Homo sapiens: one gene and its partners. The protein of the gene in region 1 interacts with the protein of each later gene in a biochemical or structural test. Each region holds a gene or a part of one and is shown on either strand. Other genes may lie near its edges. The genes, in order: SNRNP70, CASP3, TOP1, NUDT21 and PPM1G.

Evidence for each region.
Region 2: of the proteins of SNRNP70 (region 1) and CASP3, one has a biochemical effect on the other in vitro, tested with the Homo sapiens proteins (one study listed by BioGRID).
Region 3: the proteins of SNRNP70 (region 1) and TOP1 interact in a test that uses a peptide from one of them, tested with the Homo sapiens proteins (one study listed by BioGRID).
Region 4: the proteins of SNRNP70 (region 1) and NUDT21 form a complex in vitro, tested with the Homo sapiens proteins (one study listed by BioGRID).
Region 5: the proteins of SNRNP70 (region 1) and PPM1G interact in far-western blotting, tested with the Homo sapiens proteins (one study listed by IntAct).

What each region holds. Positions count from the first base shown.
Region 1 is NC_000019.10:49,102,451-49,105,798, reverse strand, and holds part of SNRNP70 (U1 small nuclear ribonucleoprotein 70 kDa), read right to left. Parts: intron 2,373-3,348; exon of another isoform or gene 2,212-2,372; intron 1,166-2,211; coding exon 1,064-1,165; intron 1-1,063. UniProt on the Homo sapiens protein: Component of the spliceosomal U1 snRNP, which is essential for recognition of the pre-mRNA 5' splice-site and the subsequent assembly of the spliceosome. SNRNP70 binds to the loop I region of U1-snRNA.
Region 2 is NC_000004.12:184,635,941-184,639,461, reverse strand, and holds part of CASP3 (caspase-3 isoform a preproprotein), read left to right. Parts: intron 1-993; coding exon of another isoform or gene 994-1,008; coding exon 1,009-1,061; intron 1,062-3,521. UniProt on the Homo sapiens protein: Thiol protease that acts as a major effector caspase involved in the execution phase of apoptosis. Following cleavage and activation by initiator caspases (CASP8, CASP9 and/or CASP10), mediates execution of apoptosis by catalyzing cleavage of many proteins.
Region 3 is NC_000020.11:41,112,322-41,115,842, forward strand, and holds part of TOP1 (DNA topoisomerase 1), read left to right. Parts: intron 1-460; coding exon 461-604; intron 605-1,648; coding exon 1,649-1,834; intron 1,835-3,049; coding exon 3,050-3,118; intron 3,119-3,521. UniProt on the Homo sapiens protein: Releases the supercoiling and torsional tension of DNA introduced during the DNA replication and transcription by transiently cleaving and rejoining one strand of the DNA duplex.
Region 4 is NC_000016.10:56,448,533-56,452,808, reverse strand, and holds the start of NUDT21 (cleavage and polyadenylation specificity factor subunit 5), read left to right. Parts: upstream 1-1,476; 5' UTR 1,477-1,606; coding exon 1,607-1,722; intron 1,723-4,276. Other genes in the region: prolyl 3-hydroxylase OGFOD1, read right to left, coding at 1,043-1,196. UniProt on the Homo sapiens protein: Component of the cleavage factor Im (CFIm) complex that functions as an activator of the pre-mRNA 3'-end cleavage and polyadenylation processing required for the maturation of pre-mRNA into functional mRNAs.
Region 5 is NC_000002.12:27,403,077-27,406,597, reverse strand, and holds part of PPM1G (protein phosphatase 1G), read left to right. Parts: intron 1-3,521.

The DNA of each region.
Region 1 (3,348 bases):
AGCAAGCTGTGGGCTGTCACACATCACAGGTGGGTCGCCCCAGTTTTTTTGTTTTTTGTTTTTTTTTTTGAGACAGAGTCTTGCTCTGGCACCCAGGCTGGATGGAATGCAGTGACTCTATCTTGGCTCACTGCAACCTCTGCCTCCCAGGTTTAAGCAATTCTCTGCCTCAGCCTCCCGAGTAGATGGGATTACAGGCACCCGCCACCACGCCCAGTTAATTTTTGTATTTTTAGTAGAGATGCGGTTTCAACATCTTGGCCAGGCTGGTCTCGAACTCCTGACCTCATGATCCACCCGCCTCGGCCTCCCAAAGTGCTGGGATTACAGGCGAGCCACCACGCCTGGCCTGGTTGCCCCAGCTCTTAACAGCGTCAGCTACCAGGTTCTCAGGTCCACGGACATCACATACCTCCGAACTCCAAAGGATGCCCATGATTCTACATCAACAGGGCCCTTTATGTTTCAGGAAGCTCAAGTTTATTTCTGATACTTGCAGCCAAACTGACCTTGCCTGAGACAGCAAATGACAATGAGGAGACCGAATGCAGGAGGCTCAGAGGGCAGAGGCTGCCTCTGTGTTGCTCAACTAGAAGCCCGGCACACAGCTGGTGATCCAATAGGTACTTGCTGAATCAGTAAAAGAGTGAACAAGAGCAACAGCAAGCAGCAGAAGCAGATGAGCGAGTGACATTTACAACCCCAGCATGCGTCACTGCCAAGCTGGGCGCCCAGTACACTGAGCTCAGTGAACTCGGGGTTATTTCCACTAAGAGGAGTACAATGAGGCAGGAAAAGGGGACCCCCAGCTAGCAAGGGCGGACGCCAGCATGTGGGCTCAGGCCTCTCCAGGCTGGTGCCCCTGCTCCTCACAGTAACCCAGAACGAGGAGGCAGGCAGCTGTCAGAAATGTGATGGCCACAAGAGAGAGAAGCCGGAGATGAGGACGCGATGGGAGAGGTGGGCCGGCAGGAGACAGAGAAGCAGAAAGCAGCAGAGAAGGGAGAACAAGGCCACCAGGCCCAGGGCCCCCGAGAGCCCGTCGAAGGCAGGATGTGCTCACCTAGCCGCCGGGGCCTCCAGCCCTTCACGGTTCGGCCCCTCTCCACGTCCACAAGGACCCTCCTGCCATCAATCTTCTTGCCATCTGCGTGTTTGTAAGCGGCTGTAACAGATGTGGGGAGGGGGAGGGGAGAGGAGTCCCCAGAGGGTCCTCTAGTCAGGACAGGCCCAGCTCTACAGAATCCCCGCCCCGTGTCCCCATCATCACGCACACGCACACGCCCAACAGACAGCCAGGCAACTGACAGCCAGACCAACCCTCTCCCAAACCGGTGAAGGGCCTGCTCCATCTCAGCGTCTGCTTCCTCTCAGCGCCCCAACCACTCCTGGTCGGGGGAGACGTCCACCCTCACCCGCCACCCCCTAGGCTCCCCGGCCCTTCCTCTCCCACATGATGGAACAGCCCCCTCCCGCCAGGGCGGCCAAAATCGCTGCAAAGAAACTGAAGGTTAACTCCACGCTGGACTCTGCTGTGGGGGAGGGGGCTCCTCCACAACCCCAAGCATGCACCCTGAGACACCAAGCCGGGGCAGGAGGCCCAGCTGGGACGCTCCGCACCCCAGACCACACCGGTTTTTTCTGTTTTTGTTTTTTTTGGAGGGGGGTGAGTGTGGGGGGAACAGACATCAGAACAGAAAATGAACCAGAAGGGGGTGGGAGAAATCTTCAGGAAATGGCAGGGAGCAGAGAGGCGGGTTATACACTCCCAGGGGGCCTGGCGGGGCCCCTGCAGCAGGGGAGAGGGGCAGTGGAGGAAGCATGGGGAGCCGTGCGGTGCTACTGAAAATCCCTGCCTTACCTGAGACGACTGACTCTGCCTCCCCCCAGCCCTGCCCCATCTCGCCCTCCACACCCCCGGCTCAACACGTGCTGGGAGCGCACCCCAGCCTGAGCCTGCCAGGAAAGGGGAGTCGTAGAGGGGAGACGGGGGAGAGGCTCACTGCTGCTCTCGGGCAGCGCGTAGCAGAAGGCAAGCCTGAGGCCCTGGCCTGTGATCAACGTGGGGCTGTCATGAAGGCCAAAAAGTCCCCGTTCCCCCACCCAGCCCTGGCCTAGGGGGCTGTCCTCAACCAACCGTAATACCCTGCCCCGCCCCAGCCCGCTCCCCCCCAAATAACAACCAGAGGAAGAGAAAAAGGTGCCATTTACCGATGCCGGCCTTGCGGGTGTCCAAACCGAGCGGGATGGGGGGGGCTCGGCAACTCCTGGGGGCCTGGCGAGGAGGCGGGCTTCCCGGGGGGGGGACACGGGACCGCTTACCTGGAGCCCCCAAGCTTACCTGAGCACGCGCACAGACCCCACACCCACCACCACGGGGTCAGCTAAAGCTACAGGGAGGGGAAGTGGGGGGTTCTAGGGAGCCAGGAGAGGGAGAGGAACCACATCTCCTGTACCACCTGGAGACAGGCAGAGGACGTGGTAGACCCCAAAGAAATCTCAAGGAGGCCTTAGAGTGGGGGAGACGAGGATTATCATCCAAGCTGGGCGCTGGAAAGCCCTGGACTATCTCGTGTGAATTTACAAAGAAGGCTAGGGAGGCCTCAGAAACCTGTCCGCCCTCACCAATCCCCGAGTCACACTGAACTAGGCACACAGCCCACCCCCTCCGAGGACCAGGAGTGACTTCTCCACCTCCAAATCCATGCTCCCTCCCACCAGCTGCGTCTGCAGAGGCTGGCACACAGGGGTCCAGGAGACGGTGCTGCCCGTGCTCTGAGGAGGGGCCGCTTGGCCCCTGAACCCACGGGAGGGGAGTGGGGAAAGGCATTTAAGGACCAGGATCAAAGTCAAGCGAAGGAACCCCGCTCGGGTTCAGAGTCCCAAACCCCAAAACAGGCCCATCCCGGGAGGAACAGCAAAGAAAACATGTGATTGTGTTCGTCTAGGCCTCTCTCTCTCTTTCCCTCTCTCAAGTCTCTAGACAGTGGAAGGTTCTTTAGTAAAAACCTACGACACCTTCAGCTGCTAGCAGCCTACCCCTTGGTCCCTCCCACACCCCAAGCCCCAATTCCATGCACTTTAGGGAGCTCCTGACCACCTCTGGAGAGCTGCTGGACACCACAGCCAGCCCCCTCGGGAGGCCTCAACCACAGTAAGGAAGACAGAAAGGGGGCAGAGCACCCCAAAACTAGCAGCCAAAAAGACTCTCCAGGGCCAGCACAGTAGCAGCCCCATAGAAAGCACGGGGGCAGGGAGGGAAGGCTGAAGGGCTCCAGTGGAGCCCTGGCCTGGAGCCCTGCCCTCGGTGTTCCTGCCACCTCGCCGCTGACATCACGAAGCCGGGTC
Region 2 (3,521 bases), on another chromosome or scaffold:
AAAACTGAGTGCCTTGCAAAGTACCTGGTATATATTAAGTGCTCAATAAGTGATAGTTGCTTTGATTCTAAGAACTGGTTCACCTTGTGAGATATAATTGTGTAATGGAAGAATGAAAGCAGAAACTTTAGTTTCTACTTTTACATTTCCTGGGCCATTTTACTACCCTAAATGAGAAGCTGGGCTTCCAAAACCCACTTTAAAAGTAAAGACTAGGCCGGGTGCGGTGGCTCTTGCCTGTAATCCCAGCACTTTAGGAGGCCTAGGTGGGCAGATCACTTGAACTCAGGAGTTTGAGACCAGCCTGGGCAATACAGCGAGACCGTATGTCTACAAAAAATACAAAAATTAGCCAGACATGGTGGTGCATGCCTGTAATCCCAGCTACTCGGGAGGCTGAGGCGGGAGAATTTGAGTCCAGGAGATCGAAGCTGCAGTGAGCCGTGATTGCGCCGCTGCCCTCCAGCCTGGGTGACAGAGTGAGACCCTGCCTCAAAAGAAAAAAAAAAAAAGAATAAAGATTAATGGAGATTTGGAACATCTTGATACTGTATCTTGGGAATCTAAGCATTGTAGAATTGTGTTATGTGAGTTATACCATTGTGGTGGGAAGTTTTTGATTTTTGTTTTAACTGTGTTGAGTTGCAGTTCTTAGAAATGACCCGAGGTGTTGTCTTACAAAAGAAATAAACTGTAATCTGTATCTTGATCTGATGAGGGTATGTAAATATAAAAAATCGAGCTGTATACTTTCTATATGCTTTATGTAGTTCACTATATATAATTCATAGCTCAATTAAAAAGAGAGAGAGAGGCTAAATTGTATGTACCATTGCAAAGAAATCATTATCCCCAGAACTGACTCACATACACCTTTAACAGTAGAGGGAGAACTGAGGTATTAATTTGGAAAAATAATCACTGGGATAATTAATATAATGCAGTGGTTTTATGACTGATTTTTTATTAACTTCTATTTTCTTTGTATTCTAGTTAATAAAGGTATCCATGGAGAACACTGAAAACTCAGTGGATTCAAAATCCATTAAAAATTTGGAACCGTGAGTATTTAAATTGAATTCTTTATAATCAGAGAAAGATGGGGATGTGTAATAAGCAAACCTCGAGCAGTGGGGCAAGAGGAAAGAGAGTGGTCTCTCTCTCAGGCCAGAGAGACCAAGTGACTTCCTACCTCAGACAGCTGTGTGGCTTTGCATAAACTGACTTTTCTTCTCTGAACCTCGTCTTTAACATGGGGCTAAAACTTTCACAGAACTGAAGGGAAGATGAAAGGAAAGGCCTAGTAGGGTGTGTGACCCATAGTTGGAAACCTAGTCCTGGAACCAAAAGGACACCACAGGAGAGGCAGGACTCCCAAGCGCCGGTGCTTTCTACCCTCCCGAATCGCTCTATAGGATTAGAGGGTTTAGGTTTGGGAGGAGTTTCTTGACCTCTTGTTTATGAGTTTTTACGACTAAAATGCAATGCCAGTTTTCAGTCCGGGGACAAACTGCCTAGTTATGGATGAATTTTACCCTTTTTTTCCCCGTGTCTTTTTGGAATATTCTGCTTATTAATGCTTCCAATAACTAGCAGATGGAAAAAGGAAAAAGATAAAACTCAAATTCACTTTTTAATTCTTGTCTGTTATTATTTATTTGGGATCTCTCGTAATACTTTAAATTCTGAAAGTTTATTTCTGAAACCCAGTATTGTTATTCTCGGCTGCCCTGAATATTACAAACTAATTTTATTACTAAACAATATGATTACAGAAATACTATTAACAAGTTACCACTAAAGATTTCACAATTTTGTTTAGCAAAGGGATTTTTCTAGAAAGTAAACTTTTAAAATGCAGTCCCATTTTAGAGAGTTGTTGCTGTCATTTAAATCATTTTAGCCAGTGCAGTGGCTTGCTCCTGTAATCCCAGCTACGTGGGAGCTGTGGCAGGAGGATCACTTGAGGTGGAGAGTTTGAAACCAGCCTGGGCAACATAACGAGACCCTGTCTCTACAAAAAAACAAAAAACAATTAGTCCACCATAGTGTGTGTGCTTGTAGTCAGTCCTAGCTACACGCCAGAGGTTACAGTGAAGTAAGACCCCATCTCTTCAAAAAAATCCTTTGAAAGTGATTTACACATTTTCCTACTATTTTTTTTTTCTTTCTTTTTTGAGACAGGCTGGAGTGCAGTGATCTGATTATGGCTCACTGCACTCCTGGGCTCCAGTAATCCTCCTGAGTAGCTAGGACTACAGACATGTGCCACCATGCCTGGTTATTTTTGTTTTTTATTTTTGTAGAGATGGGGGTCTTGCTGTGTTGCCCAGGCTGGTCTCCAATGCCTGGCCTCAAGGGATCCTCCTGCCTCGGCCTCCCAAAGTGCTGGGAGTACAGGTGTGAACCACCCTGCCTGGCCCTACCTTTTCATGTCATGCAGAACACCACTTCAATAACAAGTTGCACGGAAGCCCCAGACAGGTTTAGGGTTGTTTCGATCCTTTGGTAAGTTGCCCTCACAGTCCCGGCTTTCACAGCCTCTGCCTTTTATTAGGAGTATCCCCTCGTGGACTAGCTATCATATGCTTGTAAAGTACCTACCTCCTTAGGAGGCACCCAGAGCACGTGGGGAAGGGGTGTCGGGAGCTGGGAGTCATAAGTCCCATGATCCATCATCTGTAGGACTCAAAGGTCAAGTCACGCTTTCAGGATTTAACTTCAGTCTGTAAATGTGAGGCTGTTCACCTCTGGTTAAAAATCATAACTGTTTTCTCACGTTGACTCCTTTAATTTACTACATTTAATCTTTTTCCAACAGTATTTTTGGAATTGTGTATAATGTGAGATGCTCTTAAGGTTAAGTGCATGAGTATATGGACTGTAGGTGTTAGTGTTTGGTAGTTCCTAGACCTGTTTTTGCCTGACTCTTGGTCTAGATCAGGGATCAAGCTTAAGGCCTGTTTTTATCAACTTTCGTTGGAATATAGGCACATCCATTCGCTTACATATTGTCCTAAGCCCGTTTCACCAGTATAATTGAGCAGCTATGGCTGGGCACAGTGGCTCACAACTGTAATCCCAGCACTTTTGGAGGCCAAGGCAGGAGGATCACTTGAGGCCAGGAGTTCAAGACTAGCCTGGGCAACATAGCGAGATCCTGTCTCTAAAAAAGAAAATACAGAAATTAGCTGGGCATGGTGGGGCATGCCTGTCTGTAGTCCTAGCTACTCAGAAGGCTGAGGAAGGAGTATCACTGGAGCCCAAGAGTTCAAAGTTGCAGTGAGCTATGATGGCACCACTGCACTCCAGCTTGGGTGACAGAGCCAGACCATGTCTCAAAAAAAAAAAAAAAAGAATAGAATTGAGTAGCTGTAACAGAAACCAGATGGCCCACAAGCCTAAAACACTTAATATTTAGCCCATTAAAAAAAAAGTTTACTGACCCCAATCTAGATAGCAGAGGTTTTTTTAGATAAGTGACTTCCAGACAGATATTTTCAATTATTTACAATAATGCT
Region 3 (3,521 bases), on another chromosome or scaffold:
GGGTGATTATGTGCTTTGTGTTGACAGAAGTTAGTTTTTGGGACATCCCATGTGGGTTTTTCCCAGGAACATAAACATTTTAGAGAATTAGAGCTAGAAACTTTCTTCTGGGAAAGCCTTAGAAGTCAGTTGTGCTTGGCAGTGAGATGGGACAATGTGCATTCTTAACAGGTTAAATGTGCCAAACTCTCTCTTCAGTACTATTCTTTTTTACGTTTGCTTAAGGTCAAGTTCCTGCTCTTTTGTTCAAAGTCTTGCTTTGTCACCCATGGTGGAGTGCAGTGGCGTGATCTTGGCTCACTGCAACCTCTGCCTCCTGCGTTCAAGCAATTCTTGTGTCTTAGCCTCCCTATTAGCTAGCTGGGATTATAGGCTTGCGCCACCTTGCCTGGCTATATTCAAAGTCTGTCTTTACTACACTGTCCCAAAGTAATCTACATTTGGGTTTGGGTCTTTACAGGGTGAGAAGGACTGGCAGAAATACGAGACTGCTCGGCGGCTGAAAAAATGTGTGGACAAGATCCGGAACCAGTATCGAGAAGACTGGAAGTCCAAAGAGATGAAAGTCCGGCAGAGAGCTGTAGCCCTGTACTTCATCGACAAGGTGAGAGCATCTTCCCATCGGCATTGTCTAGTGTTGAGCTTAACAAAGGGAGTTTCTGCTCTGCCCCAGGCCCTGTGCCACATACTGTATATCACAACTCAACATACATATATTTGTATGTAAAACTGAATCAAAAGTTGCACAAAACAATGCTTAGCCTTACTGTGAGCAGTAGATTCTGATCTTTTTTTAACTCTATTTCATTCCTTTAGAAAGTTGGTTATAACTTATAAAATTGTTTAAATAAACCATGCAGGTATCACCATTATATAGTTTTAAAGACCACGCTCTAGAGGAGATCAATTTCTTGGTACTCACGAGAAGAAAAAAAAGTTCATGTTTTTCCCCCAGTCTTGTATTTTAACATAAGTTCTGAATTGTCTCAAAATTCACACTAGCTTTTTGAGTTTGATTGCCCAGAGTAGCAGCACTCCCTCATTTGCTGCCTTATTTAATTTTTTTTTTCCTTTTCTCCATCCCTATTTCAGAGGACAGAATAGAAAGAAAAGGAGCATGAATATTTAACATCCCTATAGATTTCATAGTGAGTGGGGGAGGAAGTAACACTGCAGAATCCAGAGTTCCCAGGCCATGCTGACTGATGCTGTGGCTTCAAACAGAATTGGGAGGCTTCTGTTTTGGATGCCTAGAAATTGCATAAGGGTCAAAAGGCTGGGCGCAGTGGCTCACGCCTGTAATCCCAGCACTTTGGGAGGCCAAGGCAGGTGGAACACGAGGTCAAGAGACCATCCTGGCCAATGTGGTGAAACCCCATCTCTACTAAAAATACAAAAAAAAAAAAAAAAATAAAAATTGGCGTGGTGGCGGGCGCCTGTAGTCCCAGCTACTTCGGAGGCTGAGGCAGGAGAATGGCATGAACCCGGGAGACGGAGCTTGCAGTGAGCCAAAATTGCGCCATTGCACTCTAGCCTGGCGACAGAGCGAGACTGTCTCAAAAAAAAAAAAAAAAAAAACACAGAACGAAATTGTGTAAGGATCATGTCTCTTCCATTCATGCTCATCTTTTCTTTCTTTCCTGGGCAGCTTGCTCTGAGAGCAGGCAATGAAAAGGAGGAAGGAGAAACAGCGGACACTGTGGGCTGCTGCTCACTTCGTGTGGAGCACATCAATCTACACCCAGAGTTGGATGGTCAGGAATATGTGGTAGAGTTTGACTTCCTCGGGAAGGACTCCATCAGATACTATAACAAGGTCCCTGTTGAGAAACGAGTAAGTTAATGTACCTGTACTGTCTGACTTGTTTTCCATTATTCAACAAGCATGGGTTGACTGCTTTTTTGTGTGCTTTGCACTTTGCTGGGCACCAGCAAAAGTGACTTGAGACAGGCAACATGGCACATGCCTGTAGACCCAGCTATTCAGAAGGCTGAGACAGGAGGATCACTGGAGACCAAAAGTTTGAGGCTGTAGTGTGCTGTGATCACACCTGTGAATAGCCACTGTACTCCAGCCTGGGCAAAATAGTGAGACCTTGCCTCTCATATTAAAATAAATAAAAATAAATGACTTGAAAGAGGGGAGAGGTATTATTTGATATCTTGTGTACCTCCTTTTAGTCACTGTTCCGCCCTGTGCTACCTTCCTGGTAAGGAGTGGCCTTCTCCTATAGCAGTATTCAATGGAGCATGCTGTAGAATAGGCCCTTAGAGCAAACTCAGCATATGATTTAACTATATCTTAGTATCCCCTGGTCATGTGGTACATTTGTCACTTTTCATCTTTGCTCAGCCTTTCTCCAACTCCTGACTGAGTGAAAGGTTAATGTTAGTCCCCAGATCTCTGAGCCCATCACTGAAGAGGGTACTATAGCTCTGTAGTCCCAACCTAATCTTTTCCATAGTATTGGGCTTGAACCAGAGACTTACAGTGTGCAGGATCCTAATAATCCAGCCCACCAGCAGTCCTCTTCTTATAAAGACACCTCTTCTCATAAGGACACCATAATCAGTAATCAGGTTTTGCTGGCTGTGGAAGTACTCTGGACAGATTAGATAACAGTATGTATCAATGTAAATTTTTGAAGCTGATACTGTGTAAATGTAAGGGAATATCTATTTTTAGAACATACACACTGAAATGTTTAGGACCATATTATAAGTAAGTACTTATAAATGTACTTTAGGACCATATTATAAGTAAGTACTTATAAATGTACTTTAGGACCATATTATAAGTAAGTGCTTATAAATGGCTCAGAACAAACAATTATGTATATATATCTGTAAATATACACATGGAGAGAGTGAGCATACATGCACACTGTGCAAATGATGAATGGGGTAAAATGTTAACAGTGAATCTCGGTGACGGATGTATGCGTGTTCCTTGTGCCTTTTTCTTTGCAAGTTTCTTTAAGTTTGGGGTTATTTCTAAAGTTAGGATTTTTTTCAAGAGTAATAATTAGGATTCACTTATATCTTTTAGGTTTTTAAGAACCTACAACTATTTATGGAGAACAAGCAGCCCGAGGATGATCTTTTTGATAGACTCAATGTGAGTAGATGAAGCACACAATGTTGAAGGGAGTCCCAGCCAGAGCCTCACAGTACCTAAAGGGGAGGGTTGCTGGCAGATGACTTGGGCTCTCCCTTTAGCCTGGCCTGCTCTGTGGCATCCCATACACTCTCTCTTCCTCCCTCTGAGTCCACGGTGAATCTGTAGTCAAGAGAAGACACATCTGCTGCAGAACAACTGCTAAAGCACTCAGGGTGGGGGGTAGATGAGCCCTACCTTTTATCCTTCCCTGCTCCTGCAGAGCTTTCCCTTCACTGAATGCCCAGCCACCCCTGCTGGAGACCCAAAACCTGTCCCTGATATCTTAATAGGGAAGGAAAAATTTGCTTTATTGGTTTGTTAAGCCCACCAACCTGGGCCAGGCTTGGTGGCTTACGCCTGT
Region 4 (4,276 bases), on another chromosome or scaffold:
TCGGGCATAACCACCTCTAATTCCTTGATTTCTACCCCAACATTTACCCACTGCTTCCGGCTGGCTAGATCACCATCCTGTAATCATCAGCACCACCTACCAGGTGCCAGGCCCATGATCTCATTCAATCTTTTTAACAGCTCTGAGGGAGACATTATCACTCTCCCCATTCTACAGATGAAGAAACTGAGAGTACAGAGCCTGCACTTAAACACTAAGCTATCGTTTTCTATAGGCATCCAGCCTACCCAGGACTCACCTCTTCAAAGCACTTGACAACGGAAAGAAAAATTACGGCAAACTCTAGAAGGGGATGCCTGGCGCATGAAGCAGAGCTCTGAACACCTAAGGTGATATTTAAAGCTGAGGCTGGAATCGTTCAACGTAGGCGCCTTTCCTTGGTCAAAGCGCGTTTATTTTCATACATCATGGAGTCAAACTACAGGCGCGTAGAGACGAGTACACTAGGGAGTCAAGCTGGCAGCTCACGACAAATGCCCTGGCTAGACTCTCCTGGGACAGCTGAGCAATGCCCTTGCAGGAGAAATGACATCAGCCACTCCTGTATTTGTCCACATGTGTATTGGGCCTTACTCAGGGAAACATTTACTGAAGCCTGCAAGCATTAGTGTGTCGCTCCCATTCACCGACTTTCCGAGGTAAATATTATGAACTATCCCATTTTACTTAGGAAGCAACTGAAGTTTAATAAGGTTAATTCCATTGCCTGGCGACGCCCAATCAGGGGAGAGGATTCTAACTCAGTAATCTTTGACTCCAGAATGCAACTATCTCTTGCATACCCTCTGCTTCCCAAAACTCTCCGGCCTCCATTTCTCCCTCTTCTCACGTTTCTAAATTGCAACCGAATTTGGAGTGAAAGGGAGCAGCAGCCGAGGCAGGAGAGTAGGAGGTGGCCAAAGTCCTCTAAGAGCCTCTTCCCTTGCGGCCCCGCTGCCCAAGGCTGGGCGCGAGTCCCAGGGCTTTTTCAGAGATCCCTAGACCTCTGCGTGGCGGCCCCTCCCTGAGAGCACCCGGTTACCGTGACTGAACGGCGTCCTGCGGCTCCAGGCCTCAGCCACCTGCTTTTTCAAGGTTTCTTCCGTAACAGCGTCCGAAAACTCCGCCATCACCTCCTTCTTTCCCTTTTTTCCCACCCGGGCTGGGCCGGGCTCCGCTGGCCGCTTCCCATTCATCTCTTCCCAAGGCACAGAACCACGCCACGCAGATCAAGACGCTACCTTCCTGAGGGTACTGCAACTCCCGGCATGTCCCCTTTATCGTGTTTCCCGGCCCTACCCAATGGGAAGCACCAAAGTAAGAGAAGGCGGAACCTATACCCGGTTTACCAATGGGAGCTCCAGCTATTGCAGCCATCCCACCAGCAATTGGCCCACTGGAGCTCGGTCTGGCAGGCCACCGCCCCTCTACTTCCTGCCGCCAGAGGCTCCGGGTTCACTTCCGGCGTGCCTACGCCTCCTCTTGCGCTGTCCTGTTAATGGCGGGCAGTAGCCGCTGAGGGGATTGCAGATAACCGCTTCCCGCACGGGGAAAGTCTACCCTGCCTGCCACTTTCTGCTCGCCGTCAGCGCCGGAGCTCGCCAGCATGTCTGTGGTACCGCCCAATCGCTCGCAGACCGGCTGGCCCCGGGGGGTCACTCAGTTCGGCAACAAGTACATCCAGCAGACGAAGCCCCTCACCCTGGAGCGCACCATCAACCTGTAAGTGCGGCGCGGCCTTGGCGGGCATTTCTCTCGTGAAAGCTCCTATAGACTCTCCGACGCGCCCCCGGCTTTTCGGCGCGCTTCACGCCTCTGCACCTCCCCGCCTCCAACTCCCGCTGGCGGATGCGCGCCTTCCTCCCTCTCTCAGGCCCCTTTCTCATCCTCCAGCCTCCAGGGTTAGAGTCCTTTTCTGAAAGGAAGGCTTGTTCCCATCCTATGTATTCGGTCATAATGGGGAAAAACGGAGTTTGCTTTTAACTCATCCTTTCCCCACCTCTCCAGAGGTAACCGACTTCAAAATGTGTGTTTTTTTAATCCTTCCAGTGAATTGTTTATGCTTTCGCATCACGTACATGGTATTGCTTTGTGAGTGTTGATGTGATACGAATGGTATAACCTAGTATCATTTTTGCAGATTTCACTCTGACAGTAAGGTTTCGAGATCTAGCTGTAATGCCTAGGTCTAGTTTTCTTCCTTTTAGGTGCCACTTAATACTTCAGTTTTTGAATACAACACATTTTATTCATGTGCTCAGGGCTGTCTGCCCTGCCCCATGCCTTATGCCTTCGCGTCGTCTGATGTCTCAATGCCGGCATCCCAGGCACCACAAGTAGGCCCCTCCTTGGGAGTAAGGATGCTGCTATGGTTGGGCTTTCAGACTGGAGGGAACCAGAATGTTTGTACCAGAAAACCCATTGTGGGCTGTGTTTTATTTTCAACACCTTTCTGTTTCAACACTTCAAACCATTGCATTTCAAGGTCATTCTCAGAAGCAGACTCGCTGTAGCAGGTAATTGGCGTTTGGGGTGTCTTAATCAAGAAATTGTCAGTAATGCTTTTTAAAATCGTTTCTGAGGATTTGTTTTCGAGGCAACGCGGTGCCTCCATTTTATGCCAGGATGGAGGAAAGTGGCCAGTTTATGCCAGTCAGGGTACAAGTGCAAGGATTTGGTGGTATTGATGTTTTCGTAAGGCAGTTTAGGTGTTTCTCTGTTTCATATTAAAATAAACGGACATTGTCTCCCCGTCCCCCAACCAAAAGTGATTTGAAGTTGAAAAGATGGTTAACATTGTTTTATTTTGCAAAACGTGTTGGCTTGGAAATTTAGATAATGGAAATGCTGGGTTTATAAAATCTGGAATTAGTTGATAGTTGTGTGTATAAAAGTTCTCAGGAGTGGCGGCTCACGACTGTACTCCCAGCACCTTGGGAGGCTGAGGTGGGAGGATCACTTGAGGCCAGGAGTTGGAGATCAGTCTGGGCAACATAGGCTGTCTCTACAAAAATTTTTTTAAAAATTAAGAAAAAATCCATCAAATGGTAAAGGCAAATGTTATCCTTTTTAAAAGTGTGAAAGCACAGCTTCTGGATTACTTTCGGTGGTTATTAGAACTAAAACCCACAGTCTTTTCTTGTTTTGTCTTGATTACTGAATTAATTTGCATCCAACCATTTTGTAGAATTGGCAAAATAGTTAGCTTTCAGTAAGATATTTTAATCTTCGCTCTATTAAAATTATGGGTTGATTTACAGTACATTTCCTCTCCTGTGTAAATACAAATATTCAGAAATAATAATTGTGTTGTGAACTTAAGTTCACCTGAGTTAACATTAAGTTGAAAACAAATGCCCTCTCCCCCAGTATATTTTATTTTAGGAAATATTGCATGAATGCCTACTTTGTACCAGGCACTGTGCACAATACTGGATATACAGTGGTGAGGAAGTAAGGTGTAGCCCCTGCTTTATGAAGCTCACAGTATGATGAGAACAATATGTATGTCTGGGCTGGCACTCTGATTTCACAGGTGAAAATTCTGACATTTCATCTTCACATCTCCTTACTGATATATTGGAGCTGGCTCTTGCAACAGAGATGTGTAATGGCTATCCTTAATTCTTTCTAACTCAGGTTGTCAGAATTAAATGTTAATATATGTAAAGCGTTTTAAAAAATTGCTTGGCACGTCGTTCTATGTAGCATATCTGCTGCTGCTATGGATGATGGTTTTAGATTTAGCATTGGATCTACCGGGGATGTTCTTTAAATTTTTAAAGCATCCTGGAATGGTATATTTTAATTATTTTAGAGCTTTTTCATATGCCTAGAACTTGGCTTCTGGAATTAAAGTAATTTTTAAAGTTTTGGCAACCTTGATTTTTTCCCCTTTCAAGAATGGCTGAGTGGGGTAGATACAATAATGTTGACTATTAATGTCAAGGGCTTTTGGTAGAATAGATACCTTGGATGGGCAAATGTGGCCTAAATTCGTACTCAAAGGCTTCTTGCTGTAAGGCTTTAATTAAGGGCTTACAACATATAAGTATGGATTTTTTAACTATCTTTAAAGAAAAATTTGATCCTTATTAGGCAAGATGAAAACTGTCTTTAACAGTTTGAGCCATATTTTAAATTATTGGTAAAGGAAGAGAGTTTTCGATTAGATATGGTGGGTAGAAGATTCAGATGAGGAGAAGGAAACAATAAGGAGACTGAATAGAATAAATGCCAAAGGCTAGTAAATAGGTTTAGAGGACAAAAAGAGAAA
Region 5 (3,521 bases), on another chromosome or scaffold:
TGTGTAGAGATCTTACTAGACTATTCCTTACATCCTAATCTTCCTCCTGAGAGATAACTGCTTAGGGTATTAAAATCTTGCTAATGTGCTGTTTCTGAAGTTGCCCTTGTTTGAATAAATATGCCTAATCAATAGTTAAATATGCCTAATCAAATCCTCTTGAAGAGTATTGTTTGGGATCCTATTCTGCTTCATTGATAGTGTTCCTTCTGGCTTTTTTTCTCTTCAAAGTGTAGCATAGTTTCTTTGCTATTGCAAGAAAATAACTATGAGTTCTAGCCTCTTCCCTGAATCTTATCTTTCCAGAAAATATAAAGTACTCCCATTCCTCTGAAGCTTTAGGGCTTAATCCAAAAATTAATAAAGTTTATTTACCCTATTTGCTTGGTCCTAATGCTTCATTTGAGGTAAGGTTATCATACCACTAAAGGTTGTTGACATGCTGACTGATGGATAGATTTAGCCGTAGAGAGGACTCTTGAGACAAAAATGGCAATCATCAATAGCTGGCATTTTTACTTTCTGCCTGTTTCAAGCTTCTCTTCCTGTGTGACCAGGGTGTTGTTGTTGTTTGTTTTGTTTTGTTTTGTTTTTGAGACGGAGTTTCTATCTTGTTGCCCAGGCTGGAGTACAATGGCATGATCTCGGCTCACTGCAACCTCCGCCTCCCGGGTTCAAGCGATTCTCCTGCCTCAGCCTCCTGAGTAGCTGGGATTACAGGCATGTGCCACCACGCCTGGCTAATTTTGTATTTTTAGTAGAGATGGGGGTCTCTCCATGTTGGTCAGGCTGGTCTCGAACTTCTGACCTCAGGTGATCGGCCCGCCTCTGCCTCCCAAAATGCTGTGAGCCACCATGCCCAGCAACCAGGGTGTTTTGAGAAAAGGTAATCAAAATACCACAGGCCAGTCGTGGTGGCTTAACGCCTGTAATCCCAGCAGTTTGGGAGGCCGAGGGGGGCAGATCACCTGAGGTCAGTTCGAGACCAGCCTAGTCAACATGGTGAAACCCCGTCTCTACTGAAAATACAAAAATTAGCCAGAGGCCAGAGAATTGCTTGAATAGGAAGGCCAGTGAGCCGAGATCTCACCGCTGCACTCTAGCCAGGGTGACAGACTCCGTCTCAAAAAAACAAACAAAAAAACCACCACAGTTGATGTTCTCCTCCTTCCTCCTTTCTCCATGAAAAAAGTGGATGAGGTATGTACTTTGGGATTAAGAGGTAGGCACTGGGCACGGTGGCTCATGCCTGTAATCCCAGCACTTTGGGAGGCCGAGGTGGGCGGATCACGAGATCAAGAGACCGAGATCATTCTGGCCAATATGGTGAAACCCTGTCTCTTCTAAAATACAAGAATTAGCTGGGCATGGTGGCGCACGCCTGTAGTCCCAGCTACTCCGGAGGCTGAGGCAGGAGAATCGCTTGAACCTGGGAGGCGGAGGTTGCAGTGAGCCGAGATCGCACCACTGCACTCCAGCCTGGGCGACAGGGTGAGACTCCATCTTAAAAAAAAAAAAAAAAAAATGAGGTAGGTTGTGGAGGGGTGCCTGAAAAATTATAAGGTAAGGCCCTTGAGTTTTTGTTGGCTAAATAAGAAGTCAAATCTGAAAATAGATTCAGTTGATGTAGTCTTTTTTTTTTTTTTTTTTCTCCGAGACGGAGTCTTGCACTGTTGCCCAGGCTGGAGTATAATGGCATGATCTTGGCTCACTGCAACCTCTGCCTCCTGAGTTCAAGCGATTCTCCTGCCTCAGCTTCCCGAGTAGCTGGGATTACAGGCGCCTGCCACCATGCCCGGCTAATTTTTTGTATTTTCAATAGAGACAGGGTTTCACTATGTTGGCCGGGTTGGTCTCCAACTCCTGACCTCTTAATCCGCCCGCCTCGGCCTCCCAAAGTGCTGGCATTACAGGCGTGAGCCACCATGCCTGGCCCATCAGTTGATGTAGTCTTAAGGGGACAAGAGTACATTTAATATTTGGTTGTGAGGTTCTCTGGAAGTGACAAAACTGCTTTCTATGGAGAGTTAGGAATTTTTTTTTTTTTTGAAACGGAGTCTCGCATTGTCACCCGGGCTGGAGTGTAGTGGCTTGATCTCGGCTCACTGAAACTTCCGCCTCTTGGGTTCAAGTGATTCTCCTGCCTCAGCCTTCCAAATAGCTGGGATTACAGGAGTCTGCCACCAGGCCAGCTAATTTTTTTTTGTATTTTTAGTGGAGACAGGATTTCACTATGTTGGCCAGGCTGGTCTCAAGACTCCTGACGTTGTGATCCACCTGCCTCGGCCTCCCAAAGTGCTGGGATTACAGATGTGAGCTACCGTGCCCGGCCAGGAATTTTTTGTGCTATAAATCATATTTTCCTTTTATTAAAGGCAGTGTCAATATCTATAGTATAATTTTGAGGAGGCTGGCTATTTATTGCTGTGTAGAAGCTGGCTTATTAGTGGTCAAGGGGTCATCTAGAATTGACTATAAAGATAGTATTGAGCAGAAAATTCTTAAAATACCTGCATATTTGTTTCAGTCATTAAATTAATGGAAAAAATATAAAAAGAAATATCACAAGTATGCTATGGGGTTCTACCTTAGGGCATTGAAGGTTGAAAAACATTTATTTTCTTATCTTCAGATTAGCATCTCATATCAATAGCCAATAGCTTAAAGCGCTTTTTACTTACTAAACCAGGTCAGAATTTCTCTCTCTCTCTCTTTTTTTTTTTTAGACAGAGTCTCTGTCACCCAGTCTAGAGTGCAGTGGTGTGATCTCGGCTCACTGGCCTTTCTGTTTAAGTGATTCTCCGGCCTCAGCCTCCTGAGTAGCTGGGATTACAGGCATGTGCCACGACACTTGGCTTATTTTTTGTATTTTTAGTAGAGATGGGGTTTCTCTGTGTTGGTCAGGCAGGTCTTGAACTCCTGACCTCAGGTGATCTGCCCGCCTCCGCCTCCCAAAGTGCTGGGATTACAGACGTGAGCTACTGCGCCTGGCCAGAATTTCTTTGTCTAGAATGTGGTTAGCAACTTTTATAAAAACGCATTATTTGCATTTGATTAGCATGCAGTACCCATTCACAGTTCAAAGCTAGTATAGAATTATATCACATGTATGCCCATGAGCATGGAGAAACTATTTTCTTTTTATTTTTTTAAGTTGGAGTTTTGCTCTTGTTGCCCAGGCTGGAGTGCAATGGTGCCATCTCGGCTCACTGCAGCTTCTGCCTCCTGGGTTCTAGCAATTTGCCTACCCCAGCCTCCCAAGTAGCTGGGATTACAGGCACTCGCCACCATGCCCAGCTAACTTTTTTGTATTTTTAGTAGAGAAGGGGTTTTCCCATGCTGGCGAGTCTGGTCTTGAACTTCTGGCCTCAAGTGATCTGCCCGCCTCAGCCTCCCAAAGTGCTGGAATTACAGGCATGAGCCACTGTGCCCGGCCTTTTTATTTTTTAAATTATTTATGTATTTATTTTGAGACAGGATCTCACTCTTGCCCATGCTTGAGTGGTAAGGAGTATGGGATT